Linked DNA regions of Homo sapiens. The protein of the gene in region 1 interacts with the protein of each later gene in a pairwise test. Each region holds a gene or a part of one and is shown on either strand. Other genes may lie near its edges.

The links. Proteins that work in one complex are often made in the same cells at the same time.
Region 2: the proteins of GMCL1 (region 1) and TBC1D1 interact in binary tests that used the Homo sapiens proteins (3 or more experiments, as listed by UniProt).
Region 3: the proteins of GMCL1 (region 1) and PAX4 interact in a two-hybrid assay, tested with the Homo sapiens proteins (3 studies listed by BioGRID).
Region 4: the proteins of GMCL1 (region 1) and SYT6 interact in binary tests that used the Homo sapiens proteins (3 or more experiments, as listed by UniProt).

Annotation. Positions count from the first base shown.
Region 1 is NC_000002.12:69,839,660-69,843,159, forward strand, and holds part of GMCL1 (germ cell-less protein-like 1), read left to right. Parts: intron 1-1,282; coding exon 1,283-1,380; intron 1,381-1,823; exon of another isoform or gene 1,824-1,893; intron 1,894-3,428; exon of another isoform or gene 3,429-3,456; coding exon of another isoform or gene 3,457-3,489; coding exon 3,490-3,500. UniProt on the Homo sapiens protein: Possible function in spermatogenesis. Enhances the degradation of MDM2 and increases the amount of p53 probably by modulating the nucleocytoplasmic transport.
Region 2 is NC_000004.12:38,048,084-38,051,583, forward strand, and holds part of TBC1D1 (TBC1 domain family member 1), read left to right. Parts: intron 1-1,534; coding exon 1,535-1,815; intron 1,816-3,500. UniProt on the Homo sapiens protein: May act as a GTPase-activating protein for Rab family protein(s). May play a role in the cell cycle and differentiation of various tissues.
Region 3 is NC_000007.14:127,615,343-127,619,488, forward strand, and holds the start of PAX4 (paired box protein Pax-4), read right to left. Parts: upstream 2,801-4,146; 5' UTR 2,620-2,800; intron 2,059-2,619; 5' UTR 1,933-2,058; intron 686-1,932; 5' UTR 587-685; coding exon 574-586; intron 190-573; coding exon 59-189; intron 1-58.
Region 4 is NC_000001.11:114,143,870-114,147,369, forward strand, and holds part of SYT6 (synaptotagmin-6), read right to left. Parts: intron 1-3,500.

The DNA of each region.
Region 1 (3,500 bases):
TTTTATCACCTCAAGGTGATAATTTGATGTTGATTTACACCATAGTTTATCAGTTCTGTCCATCTTATCACTAATCTGTTTTGTCATTTGGGCCTTATCAGTTTGTTTACTTATCTTTGTAAATATGCCCACCTGGGATATGGAAGATGTAGGATGGAGGAAGGAAAAGTATGACCATTTTTTTTTTTAATTACATAGAAAATCTGATAAATAATACTGATTATTCCCTATGTATGAAGATGTTTTCTGGGAACAATAAATAAAAATATTGTTTTAGAGCTAAAAGAATCCTTAGTTGAGGAAGCTGAGGCTCAGAGGAGTTAAGGGACTTATTTTGGATCTCAGAGCAGTTTAGTGAGCCTGTGTCAGACTACAGCTCTCCTCATTCCCATTCCAGTGCTCTTGCTGCTCCCCTCATTGGTGGTCCACATGGAAGTACCTGGTGCGATACAAAGGCAAAGAAATACTTTAGTTAAGAATATTTACAGCCTGTAATCCCAGCACGTTGGGAGGCCAAGGTGGGTGGATCACAAGGTCAGGAGATCGAGACCATCCTGGCTAACATGGTGAACCCCATCTCTACTTAAAAAAATACAAAAAATTAGCCAAGCGTGGTGGCAGGCACCTGTAGTCCCAGCTATTTGGGAGGCTGAGGCAGGAGAATGGCGTGAACCCGGGAGGCAGAGCTTGCAGTGAGCCGAGATCGCGCCACTGCACTCCAGCCTGGGCGACAGAGCGAGACTCCATCTCAAAAAAAAAAAAAAGAATATTTACAAAGCAAACCATGTGGGACATTCATAACAGTGGCAGTGGAGGAAGGATGAACAGGCATAGATCACTGTGGGGGCTGGGAATGAGTGTGGCATGGACAGGACTCAGGAGCTGTACCACATTTCTCAGTGGTGGAGTGCTGAAAGCAGCCGGGTTAAGATTATCTTTGAGTCTGCGTATTTGTACTTAACGATTGGTCTACTGAGGAGTATCTTATACAACTTCTTGCAAGGCATCTTGGTTGTGACCACTGATGTCAAGATTACATGTTAGAAGAATGCAGCTAGATTTGGTAGAATAAACAGAAATTTATAACCTTGTTATTAAATTAACAGTGTCAACCAGTAACCATTACTAGCGTTTTAATTAGAGATACTTCTGTTATCCTTTTATGTGCATGCCACATTTAGACGGATGTCTTTGTGTGTGAAGACAGTCGTTGTTGTTATTTGTATAACACTTGTAATAGATATAAATATTATTTCATCCTACATGTGTACCTTGCTTTCAGCACTGCAGGTTGCATTTGGTTCACTGTATCGAGATGATGTCTTGATAAAGCCCAGTCGAGTTGTTGCCATTTTGGCAGCAGCTTGTTTGCTGCAGTTGGTAAGTATGCACGTTATTCGAAGAAAGGTTCAGAATAATAATCTTTGTCTCAAAGTGTGTACTCCAAAAACAAAAATAAAGCTTAGCTTTTTTGGAGTTTTTAAATAAAAATGAAATGTATAAATATGACATTTATTATAAATCATTTAAAATGCCTAACCAAAAGCAATTTATTACAACCGAGGGAGTCATGATGTCTGCATAAAATGAATGCAGGCCATTTCTGTGTAGATATCTTAGTATGACTATAATGTGGAAAAAACGTACTTGTCTAAGGTCATTTACAGATTTCATTAATGACTTGACTATTAAGCAGATGGCTTATGATTACCAATTAATTTCATTCATGGGTTCAAATAAACATGCATGCCTACTATTTAAATTTCTCTTAATTTTGAAAGAATTGTGTATAAATCACATATATGTATTTTAATCTACTGGCAGAATGACAGATTTGTTCATTGAAGAGAAGTGTGTTGAGCACTGTGTCAAACTAGACACAGAAAGCCAAAGGTAACTTAAGACGTAATCCTTACTTTCAAAAAGTTCACAACATAGTATGTATGTGTGGAGAGGGGAGGGAGGGTTGATATACAAACCCAAAGGTAAAGTAAGAGCTGTTCAATATTATAGGTATGATAATAAACATCCTGTAGCATTTAGTGAATGGATAAAGAAGGGAGTGGTCAGTTCATCCTGGTGGTGTCACATACGAAAGTTACATTTTCACACAGAGTCTTGAAAGTGTGTTTGTATTGCAAAGTAAGAAGAGGGGAAGGAAGAGCATTTCAGACAGAGAGAACAGAGTAAACTAAGATCTAGTGATGTGAAATAATGGAGGATTCAAGACTCTAACAGAAACATGGCTCCCACATAAACATAAGAAGGATTGCAGAAGAGGGGGGCAGAAGCCAGATCATGAAAATACATCTATACATTGCTAAGAAGTTTAGCATACACAGTACCTTTGGAATATTTTAATCAGGGGAAAGACGAAGTTATGTTTTAGAAAGAATACTTCAGTAACAATGTGACAGATGAATTGAAGGAAAGATGAGTACAGCATTAGAGACAAAAACTTGTTGCATTCGTCCAAGGGAGGAAAGTAGGGTAGTAGCAATAAGCTTGGAGGGGAAAAAGTGGATACCAGAGAGATTCAGGGATAATCCACTGGACTTGGTGATAGACTAAATGTTAAGAGGAAAGGGGAGGAGTCTAGAATGATTTCCAGGTAAGTTTAAAATCCTAATGGAGTCAATGTTTTATTTTAATCTTAAAAAATTGTTTACTTTTATGTGGTATTTTTGTACTGATTTATTTGAAGTATTAATAGCTTGCTAAATATCCTTGGTTGAGATCATTTGATTTTCAAAATGTTTTGATCCTTTCAATACTTACTTCCAATAAGTATACTTTATTATCTAACTCTGGTCCTTTTGGTTTTGTTCTAAATTCACCTTCTGCTTACTTTTATGATTTACTAACTCTTTAACTTAATATACCTGCATGATGAATGTATTTCAGAAATTTGAATGAAAAGTAGTATTCTTCCCATATATTAAAGTTAGTTCACTTAAAACCTATATAAACATTTTAGGTTAAAACTTTAATGTTAATCATTTGAAATAATAATATACTTGTTTTAAGTCTATCTCTTAGATATTGTAGTTATTTTAAACTTGATCACTTTCTGCTAATGCATACTGTTAGTTTAGTCCCATCACATGGTTAACTGACTATGTAGACTTCTTAATTTAAAAAGAAATGGCAAAACAGACAAAATGCTGCTAAAGAAATTTGCAAAGGTCTCAGACAGGGGAAGAATAGAAAAGAAAAAGAATAGCAGTATTCATTCTCTACCTTACTACTCCCCCCCACCTTCCATTTTCAAATTCCAAGTATTTAGTTGAATACTTGCTGAACTTTTTTCAGTATTTTTATTGGACTTGTTAAAAAAAAAAAAAAAAACTTAGGTTTGCTGCACTTAATGAGTTTTCTTTCTTTTCTTTCTTCTTTTTTTTTTTCTTTTACTTTTTAATATGTAAAAGCTGTCAGAGCTAATTTTTCCCACGTGAAATGGGCCTTTCCAGTGCTTATTTATATTTACAGGACGGTTTAAT
Region 2 (3,500 bases), on another chromosome or scaffold:
GCTGCTTGTATGTATTGTATATGTTTAAGTGTACTTTACATCTTTCTTTTATTCATCTTGAATTGAGAAACTACTATATTCTATTTTATGTAATTGGATCCCTTCTAAAAAATTGATCACCTAGGAGTTGCAAAGAAACCAAATAGCCCTGAAACTTGACAAATGAAAATGGCCCTTTCAGTTGTCCAATTAAGCTAAGGGTTAGCTCTTTGATATGATTTGGAGGGATATTAGTAAGAATTTAGATCAACAGGTTTGCATGATGGAGATTGTGTTCTGTGATGTATTGTCTTAGAGAGACTTTTAAATCCTTAAAAGAATCTTCACAACTGTTGAGTCCTGAAGAATGAAAAACTTCAGTTATGAAAGTAATCAATATTTCATAGTATGTTGGGAATTTTTTCCTAATTCTTATACAATTAAATGTATGTAACTTCTCCCTTTGGTAAACACATTTCTTTTTTTTTTTTTTTCAAATTAAAACCCTCAATACTTGTTACCTAAAAGGCACTCAACTGTGTAAATGAACAGGTAGAATTCAGTCTCCAGTCCACTGTTAGATGCATTCATTCTTGTTTACTCTATTCCTGTTGATTTATTTTTTCTCTTCCAACAATTTCAATAGGAGCAAGCTGCTACAATTCCTCTTTTTGAATATTTTGAATATATTAAAAATATATTGGCCACTAGCCACGTCCTGGGTGCAGTGTTAAACATCAGTTTGCTTGAGTGGTAGTAGTTCATTCCTTTGAAAAAGCGTGCATCGTGAAGGCATACAACTTTAAAATATTGTCATGATTCTCAACAAATGTTTGAGCACTCACTCCATAGATTTATTGCATACCTAATAAAACAATAACTTATGTTTGTGTAACATTTTACAACATAAAAAGTACTTTTGGTTGTATCATCTTGCTTTGTTCTTGAAACTCAGATACATTTTTACTTTACCCTCTTACAGAAGAAATTGAGGTGCAGAAAGAAATTATTTGCCCTGAATTGCAGCAGTAAGTGCCTACAGAGTGATTTTCCATATTCTAAGAATATTGATACAGTTCTTAATCTCAAATTATGAAGTCGAATCTCAACAGTAGATCAGATTCGGAGAGAGCCTTAAAATGTGGGTTTAACATGAGTGAACACATGTGGCAAAGATAAAGAACTTGGTTAAGCAGTGGAGACAAGTTCTCCAGCACTCACACCCCTTAGAAGCTGCAGTAAACAGTCCTGTTTTCTAGAGAGAGGGCACTATTCATGGCGTTGTTCAGAACGTTACAGATTGTGGCTTATGTCCTTCACTCCTGCACTTGGCCAGTCTCCCCATTTCTCCAGCAAGCCAGCAGTGTGTCCTTGAGGAGCGGGCATTTATTTAATGGACCTTCATTTTCTTCTGCTTTTGGTGGTGGCTTCTAGATGGCATTATAATCAGAACACATACTTAGATACTGCAATGTTTGCCCGTGCAGGAACTAGAGATTTATAAATCCCACATATTCCCCATGGTGTGTCTGATCTGCTGTGTGTTTGCTCCCAGGAGCCATCTGTGTGTGAAAAGGAGGCCTTGCCCATCTCTGAGAGCTCCTTTAAGCTCCTCGGCTCCTCGGAGGACCTGTCCAGTGACTCGGAGAGTCATCTCCCAGAAGAGCCAGCTCCGCTGTCGCCCCAGCAGGCCTTCAGGAGGCGAGCAAACACCCTGAGTCACTTCCCCATCGAATGCCAGGAACCTCCACAACCTGCCCGGGGGTCCCCGGGGGTTTCGCAAAGGAAACTTATGAGGTATCACTCAGTGAGCACAGAGACGCCTCATGAACGAAAGTAAGATTTGTTTAAATTTGTTGCATAAATAGCTGGGGCATATCTGTGACTAGCCAGGTATGTGCATCCCAGGTATGTTTATTGAGTGAGAGAAATGAGTCAGGCTTTACTCTTGGTTTGGAGATAAAACTGGAAGCAGTGACATGTTCGTTCGAGCTGCTTGTGAGTATACAAGCAATGGGTACTTGTATTGTCAGGAAGCAAGTGAAAGTGAGCAAAAATGGTACCTAACATGCATAGTCATTACTCCTCAAACAAAGTAAGAGACGTTGTTGACTGTGGAACTTTGCTGCTGTGAGGAAGAGGGCAAGCGGATGAGTCTCCCCATCTGAAGCCCTGGAGCAGGGTTATAATGGGAGGGAGAGGCGCTGATCCTTACAGGCAGAGCAAGAGAGGTATGCTGGCCTCATAGGGTGACAGGGGTGCTTCAGCTTCTGGTCCTAGCTCTGCCGTGAACTAATTGTGACCTGGACGAATTTGCTAAATTCTCTGAATAACAAAATTGGAGTAGATGTTTTCTAAAATCTCTCACTGTAAGAATTCTAGATTCTTCTAACAAGATTTATTCATTGTAATAGTTGGGTTCCTGTGACCAGTTAGAATCGTCTGGTTATGGAGAAGAGTAATCAGAAGTTCCCCCCATTCCTTCCAAGTGTCCCTTAGTGATTCATTTAACTCTGTGTGCCAGAGACTATAAATGGACACAGTTATCTTTAAAAACAACTTTAAACAATTTTAAAAATCTCTCACCTAATATGAATCAAGGTCACACCTGTGTACAGTCGCTGCCTTCTTCTGACCAGCAGCCGCAGAAGTCCCAGGACCTATGTGTTCGTGTAGTTCATACACGGATCATTGAGAGTGTGAGTTAGTACAGAAGTGTTTGGAATGTTCTGAGTAAAGAAGTGTGAGCATTAACAGTCCTGGATGATGGAGCAGAGCCTCCCAGCTTTGTTTTCTGTCAGCCATTGGAAAGAGTTCTTGGTTCTTTGGAATTCAGCGGGGTAGTGGTGATCCCAAAAGCAGGGGACATGTCAGAAGGTACTGCTTAATAAATACACGCTTTTAGAGACACACATCGTTGGGTTGTAGCTGTGTAAGTTTCTTGTGTTTAACACCCTGTCTGCACATTACTTCTGTGCTGCCTCACCACTGCCTGCCCACTCCTCTGTTGTTGGCGTTTTCAGTGATCATTGAAACATTCCTGTCTGGAGAGTCCTAGTTCTCTTGTGAAGTCTGCTGTTTCTCAAAAGCCAGAGTTGATAGGACTTAGTATCAGTACTTTTCCTTTCTCCATGAAGAATGTAGCTTTATAATAGATGATGTCACACATCCGTAATGGGAGGGATGAGGAGATGCCTGTCTGTCTGCCTCTCTAGCATGGCCCATTCTGCTTTCTTTCCCCCTTGTGAGCTCTTTTCCGATTTATCTACAGGAAATAAGACATTGAAATTCAGGGCAGGATATTGTTCATTTTAAAGGGAAATGTATTTTTTAAAGTTCAGTTTTTTTTTGCTTTTGTTTATACTTTAATTAAAAATTTTTTTTCCTGCCAGTTCCTGAAAAAGAAAATAGAGAAAGAAATATTATTGTTCCTGGGCGAAGTGGCTCACTCCTGTAATCCCAGAGCTTTGGGAGACTGAGGTGGGAGGTTGCTTGAGGCCAAGAGTTCAAGGTCACAGTCA
Region 3 (4,146 bases), on another chromosome or scaffold:
GGAGCCCTTTCTCCCTGCTTCCTGTCCCCATCACTGGGTAAAGGTGCTGGCCCATTACCTTAAGGATCCGTGAGATGTCACAGGGCCGCATTCCACTGACTGCTAGCCGCACAATCTGCTGCCGGGTATCCAGAGGCAGGGGCCGGCCATTCACAAAGAGCCCCCCAAGCTGGTTCATGCTGCTGATCCCTGGGCGTGAGACAGAGGTATCCACACACCACCTCTCCCACTGCCCTGCCCGCCTGTGGAGAGGGTCACTCAGGCCCCTCCAGCCTGGCTTCCCACCACCGAGTGCATCCTCTCCTGGGAGACTGCATCCTTGCTGCCCCCAGGCTGTCAACGCAAGCTGCTTTCTTTGAGAGCTGGCTCACGGGTGAGTCTTTGTTCCTTGCCCATACCCGCCAACTCTCCTGATCTAAGGGAAGCAGGACAGGGCAGGAAGGGAGGGACTGGAAAAAGCTTCCCCAGAACATTGGCCAATAGCAGATGAAACAGTTGATGGAAGCAAAGCCCTGAGGTCTTCCCCTGTCTCTGTTGTCCTCCCTGTCTTCCCACTTCCCCCAGGCTCCTCACCGTCCTGATGCATGCTCCAGGCTGACCCTCCTCAGAAGGATGAGACTCCAGCTGGGAAGGCTGGGAAGGGAAGTTCCTTCTAGGAGCTCCTTTTCCAGCTTGGGGGCTGGCTCTGCAATAATGGGGGGTTATTTGGGTGAGGTCTTTTGCTTGAAATGGTCCTGGGAGGTAGTGTTTTGTGATAGAGGGTCAGGTTCCTAAAATTTGCCAGTGGGTTGGCTAAAATCAGAAAATTCTAATTCCTTTTATTTAAACCTTTGTGTGATAAAAACTAAAACACTGCAGGTTGGCTGAGGACTGGATCTTTCTTGAAGTCCTGATAAGGGGCTGGGAGGATTGAGAGGGTTCTCCTTTCCTACACATTCATTAGAAAAGTTTGGGGAGGTAGAAAGGGATAATGCTTTCAAATGCTCAAGCTTTCCCCTTTCCAAATGGACAGCTGTTGTCTCCAGCTGCTCCTAAGCCTTCTCAGCCCTGGAAGACACACCCGAGCCAGAGATTCTGGGGTCCTCAAGTTCAGGGGTCCACCTTCACTATTAGGCAGTCCTCGGTTGGGCTCTCCAAACTGCCACCCAAATGCTGCACTTCAGAAAGGCTTGCTCCTGTTTTTTTATACTCTCCAGGAAGCTCTAGGGAAACTGGGACTCAGCTCTAACCCACCAGGCATTGAGGCTCTGGTCCTACACACTGGGCATAGAGATGAACACGCCTGAAGAGCCGGCTTCTCCTAGGAGACGCATCTCTTAGCATCTCTAACCTGCTGAGATTGTTCATTCTGTTCATTCTCTGAAGAGTTCTAGATCTCACAGTGAAGCTTCAATTTCAGAGACGATGTTTCTGGTATCAGACACTCATTCATTCAACTAACATTTATCAAAGGCATATTGAAGGGAATGAGAAGCAGGAGAAGACTGTCCGCTGAGCAACATAGAAACCGTCATGAGCCCAAGCGAGTCTCTGAGCAGCAAGGGACACAGGTCCCACAGGCCACCATACCTCTTCTACTTTCATTAGTAATCAATGGGAGTTGAAGATGCCTCCTTTCATGCCTGGAACCCTGGTAGTGCTGGAGATCACCCCAAGGAACAGCTTATGCACAGAACTTTCTTATAATAAGCGTGCCATCTGGGCTTAGTTAATTCATCTGCAGTTGTATGCTGAATAAGATATTAAGCATGAGCACATTGCTGGTTGTTCAGGATGAAGGCAGTAAACAGAAAAGGGTAAAGTCTTTGCTCTCCAACACATTACAGAGCAACTGGAGAAAAGAGACTAGCACCAGTGAAACAAAGAATTACAAAGAGTTTGGAATCCAGAGTCTACTTATTAAGTTCAGTCGCTAAATTGGCTTTTACTCACTTGTTTCTAGGTAGGTAGAGGCACAGACCCCTTCAAATTCTCATCTTTCCAAAAAGTCGGGAAAGAAGGCAGAGGTTTTCCAAAGAGAAAACTGAGGCACAGATTGGCATTGCCACAAGTCAGGGGCTGTCCAGAGAGTAAAATTCAAGGTTTAGAAGCCAGTTCCTCATCAGAAGCTACAATTTCTGGCTCCTAATCCTGGGCTCTCTTTCTCTGCTCCCACCCCTGTTTCATGTTTGTGTAATTGCCACAAAAACAATGGAGAGAGGAGAATCAAGCAGGGACTGTAAAGGGCTGTGCCAAGACAGGGTGAAGGAGCTCAAAATATCAGCCAAACCCTAAATCCTTGATGGGACTCAGTTCTCCTAAGTGACCAGAATTCAAAAGAGCAGTAGGGATGCAGGTTCAGTATCCAAACCTAAATAATCTCCAAACCTAAATCATTATGCCCCAACTCACAAACAGAAACCCCATTCCCAATAGCCACAACACACATTCCCAACATTCATATTAACATGTCTGAAAAAATAACTGGTGCTTGCAAGATGGAAAAACAGGAAAGGGGGTGGAAGGGGCAGGAGGGTTGTAGCTGCAAAGGCAGAGTGGGAGAGAAGTTGGGTTTGGCCACACAGAGGCATGGAGACAGCATGAGAGGCAGGGCAGACAATGAGCCTGCAGGTGAGCTACCTGTGTGGAGGAAATGAGGTGGGAGCTTCAGTGGGAGGTCTCAGCTTCTGAGACCCCTGCAGGCTCCAGGGGTGGTGATGATCTGGTCTTGGTAACAGCCTCCACTCTGCTCCTGCTTCAGTCCTGCCAGGGGGTCCAGAGCTATAGAGAGCCCGTGCTCAAGAGCAGAGGGCAGCCTTCTGGGAGTAGCCAGTGATGTCACAGGCCATGAGCAGAGGAGAGAGGAGGAGGGAGGTGTGCATGGGCTGACTGACACCAGCCCTGAGGCAGGGCAAACCACAGCCAATGACCCACTGTGTCCTTCCATGGGGAATCCTCAGAGCCCACTTTGTGTCCACCTACCACCCGGAAGCAGGGACAGAGCCATTCTCAGACAGGCAAAAGTGTACCCACACAAGCACCAGTACTCCTGAAGGGCATGCTGAGCATGGAAGATGGGGAACTTCAGGTTGTGTTCTTAAGGCTTTGAATACACAGAAGCAAAAAGATGCCTTCCCGAACCACCAACACAGCTTCCCAGCCAGAATGCACATACATGGGCTTTGGGGTCAACTCCTGAGTCGTGTGTGTTGCTATAAAAGATAAATGAGTATACAGACTGTTGCCTAAATACTGACTGAGTTGGCTCCTAGCACTCTGAGATAATGAGAGTGAATGGAGAAGAGTGTGAAGAGTGTGTGTCACCTAGCACCAGCTGTCCCCAGAGAGTGTCCTAACCAATTCTCCAATTGACTCCTTGACTGAGGTGACACCAAGGGTGAATTCTTGCCTGGAAATGGAAGGATCCTGGACTTCAGAACACTGACAATGGTAGTGGTGGTGGAAATGAGCCTCAGGATAGTCAGAGATGCATGTGGGTGTTTATAAGGAGGCTTGCAGCAGGATTTTCCTTCTTCCATCTTTAGATGTTAGCAGGCTCCATTCTGTTAGGGATTTGATGCTTTTAGACTCTAAGTTAGTAATGGCACTGCTGTTTCCACAAAAGACACCACAGGTTATCTGGGTCATTGGCGAGGTCAGAGGTATCAGTAGCTGGGCAGGTGGTGCCTGTGGAGTGGGATGCTGAAAGTGAAACACAGCCTCTAGTGCATGTAAATTTTGTTGCCAGTCATCAGGGTCTTGGGCAGATGGTCTTTGGGTCCATTCCACACCTCAGAGTCTGTGAAACCATTGCAAAAGTTAGACTGGAAGTAAGCAGGGTGTAGGGCAATAAGACTAGTCCCAGAAATCAGAGAATGGAAGACGTATGTCATTGGTAAATGTTTTGAGGTTTTGGGGGTGAAAGTGGTTGTTGTGCATTCAGCTTGATCCTAGGGTTGGGAACTCTTGCTCTCAAAGGCCAAATATCACATAAGTGAGTTTTCCACTTTACCCTGATACATACTCTCTTCCTCTTCCACCCTCCTCCAGCATCCTCAGACTGGTCTTGGGGTACAGGGGAGACTGCAGAGGGTGATTTCAGGACCTCGGGCAGGATAGCATTTGCCCAAGTGTCCTTACAGCCCATTCCATCCCCGGGGCAGCTGG
Region 4 (3,500 bases), on another chromosome or scaffold:
CTATGAGGGATGCCCCTCTTTGTGAGAAATTATTAAGCAGACCTCCCATCCCACTTCCCTCTCCAAATTTGGGAATGAACCTTTGAGCCCAAGGCCTCTTCTTGCTCGGAGTAGAGAAGTTAGAAGGCTCTGAACCAAGGGCATACTTTGCAGGGTTTGCAAAAAGGTTACTGTGGACAAACTAGCAGAAGAGTTTTGTTTGGCTTGCTTAATGATTGAAACGTTAAGAAATTCCATCATCATCGTCACCCCAGACTTCTGAATTCACTGGAAAAGACCAATGACTTGGTAATTGAACATGGGCTCCCACATGGTGGGAACTGGTGACTCTCTTTGTAAGGATATGTCCTCACCAGCTCAACCCTCCACTTCCTGTTCCCTGTCTGGCCCCTGAAAGCTTGTAAGTTTGAAGCCTCTGTATTAGCCTGTCCAAATGCCTTAAAAATCTTACTATTTAAGGTAAGAAATGACCCCACAAGTAGTGAGGCCAGGCTGTGCCTTTAAAGATGGCAGCAGTGGTTCACAGAAGGGACTTGCTTGGAGTCACAGGTTGGTCAGACACAGAACCTGGACTAGGGTCCAGATGTCCACCACCCAGGCTGGCACTCTTTCCTCTGCCCTGACCTGTCTGTCTCTGGTTAAACTGTAGGCTACTATGACACGTGTTTTTCCTCTTTGTCTGATTCAGGGCCTCACATAGAAACTGGCACATGGAATGAATGAGTGACTGAAAGAATGATGTATGAGAAGGCTGTAATTAGCTCTCATTTCAATTAAGGTCAAGCAACATTTACTGAGTACTTGCCATGTGCCAAGTTCTGAGCAAGGCTTGAATGCCCAGTCCCCTGCTAAGGGGATCCAGGTACTCCCACAGCACATAGGCTCCAGGGAAAGAGATCCCACATCAGGGGCCAAGAAGGAGTTGAGGATATCAGCCACTCTCTCTGGGAAGCCAGCACTGCCTTTTGATTCCTTTGCTGCAAGTTACTTGCCTAGATCAGTTATCACCTCCGAGAATAGGTAATAATAGCAGAGAATCCTCAAGTCCTGAGCCACCTACCACCACCCCCTTCCCAAGCCTTCCCAACACCTGGCTCCCTGCACAGGGACATTAGAGCCTTTCCCTGGCCAAAGGAGCTGGAGGTAGTCCTTCACCTGGAGACTGCCAGACACCGGGAAAGCTCATTCTAAGTCAACTTCTATACTAAAGGTCTCCAATGTGGTGGTGTCTCCAATGGGGTGAAGCTCGGGGCAGGTGGACACAAGAGAAAAAAACCAAGCCATTTTAATATTTATAATCTTTAAAAGAAATCAAATTTTTAATATACAGGTTGATAGGAATAATAGCATGTTATTAGATTTAGGCAATTTATTCAACATTACTATGTCTAAGGTTCAAAGAGCTTTATATCTATTCACTCATTTAATCCTCTCCAATGAAAAAGGTATGATTATTATCCTCATTTTGCAGATGTGGAAACTGAGGCACAGAAGGTTAAATAGATTTCCCAGGTCACACAACTAGTGGGTGGTGAAACTGGGCTACAACCCAGCCAGTCTGGTTCTGAAGTATCACCTCTGTGGAACATGTATGTAACTTGGGAACAAAAAAACATATATTGGAGGTATTAAGTTTTTTTTTTTTTTTTTTTTTTTTAACCTGTTATGAGTTCATGATCTAAATAATTTGGAGACTCTTTCTTCAGGTCTTTATCCTAGTGGGCTCACCAGGGAAGTCACCACAGCTATATGTGTCCTTATTCTACATATCTGGCCATCTCTAGCCCTTCACATCTGTTCTCTGTTACAGCTGTTCTGGATGCATTCTCTGCAATATGAGTCACCTCAAAACAAAAGGTGTTTCTAGGGCTTTGCTTTCCTTTGATCATACATCTTACTTGTTCTGGTAATAATTAGAATTTTAATGAGAAGGGGAGTAGGGGGAATCTAGAGAGCATAGAGTGCATTTAAATGTTCAGCCTGACAAATAATTGAATTCGTAAATGAAAAGAGAGGTAGGAGAAGGGGGTGGGGCAGGACAATGAGGTTTTCCTTGGTGTGGTTGCTATTTAGATTGCCTCTCCATGTGACCCCCAGCTGCTGTTCCCTCAGAGCTGTGATTAGGGGAGGCAGAGGGCATGGTTTTTTGGAATCAGCACCCAGCACTCAATACTGGTTATATGAGACCAGGAGGCCCGTCCTATGCCTGAAGAATCTTATTGCAGGACTAGAGGAGCCTGGGCTTTTGACATCTCACTGGCAGGCAGTGCAAGGAGAATTAGGTCTCAAACACTGAGTGGGTTTGTCTTCACAGGAGATGCAAGGTTGGTGAGCAAGGCTAGTAAGACCAGAAGCAGGCAGCAGGGAGGAGGTGACTGTAGAAGATTCAGCTCATTTAAAATCACTGTATGTGGCCTTGAACTCAGACATCCCTCATCTCCTAGTTTAAGTTACATTGAGATTAGAAAGGGCTGTAGGCTTCTGTACAGCCTAAGGGCTGCATAAAGGCCCAGATAACCTAAGCTGTATGCCTTCCCACTCTGGGCTTGCTGGGGCCAACCCACTGGGACATGTCCCCTAGGAAATCACAGGTGCACAAATAGCCTTCAAAACCCTTTTCCCATTCACATCTTGTTTGAACTTTGACCCCTTGAGGCAGCTAGAACTTTGATGGGCAACTCTGCCAGTTTCTGAGTCCTGATCCAGTGCTCTTCCAATTTACACCACACGTTCACTTCAGGAAAAGCTAGAAGTAAGCCTCCAGTAAGGGAGAGAGGGCTCAGCCCAGCACTGAAAAAGAGAAAGTACCTCCTAGGTATTTGGATGCTTCTTCCCTGTCTTCTTCTTTACTTCTTCTTCAGCTTAGAGAGAAGGAAGCATTGCCCTGAAGTCAGACTGGCCTCACTAACAGTCTACCTCTACTAGTTTTAAACTGTGACCTTGGCAAACTATGTAACACTTCTCAGCCTCAGTTTCCTCATCTATAAATTGGGGGTAATAATAGTATCTACCTTTAGGGTCATTGTGAGGTTTAAATGAGACCAAAACTGTTGAGGATAGTGCCTAAGATGTAATAAGCAATATAATAAATATCACCTATTTTTATTAGAATTAGTTATGCCCAGCCCAATTTGAAACAGTCCTTAGTTTTGAAATTTGTTTAATGGGCAGAACACCTGAAAACCATTGAACATTAATCAACAGAGATAGCTTTAACCTTGTCTTTACAAACCAAGAACAATCTTACTAGCAGAAATAATATAATGGTTTTGGACATAGCCAGGTCCGTCTGTATCTTGAGACGTAACACAAACTATGGTTCAGATCACACATCTCCAGGCTTTTCCTGCTAATACTCATTTGCTTGCTGCCTCCTCAGTTGTTTTGTTGTTACCATCACCAGCCAGCTGGTGAACAGGAATGAATTCCAAAGAAGTAAGAAGAAGATCATGGAAGAAAAACCTATAATTGAGAACATCCTATGTTCTTGAAAAATTTCT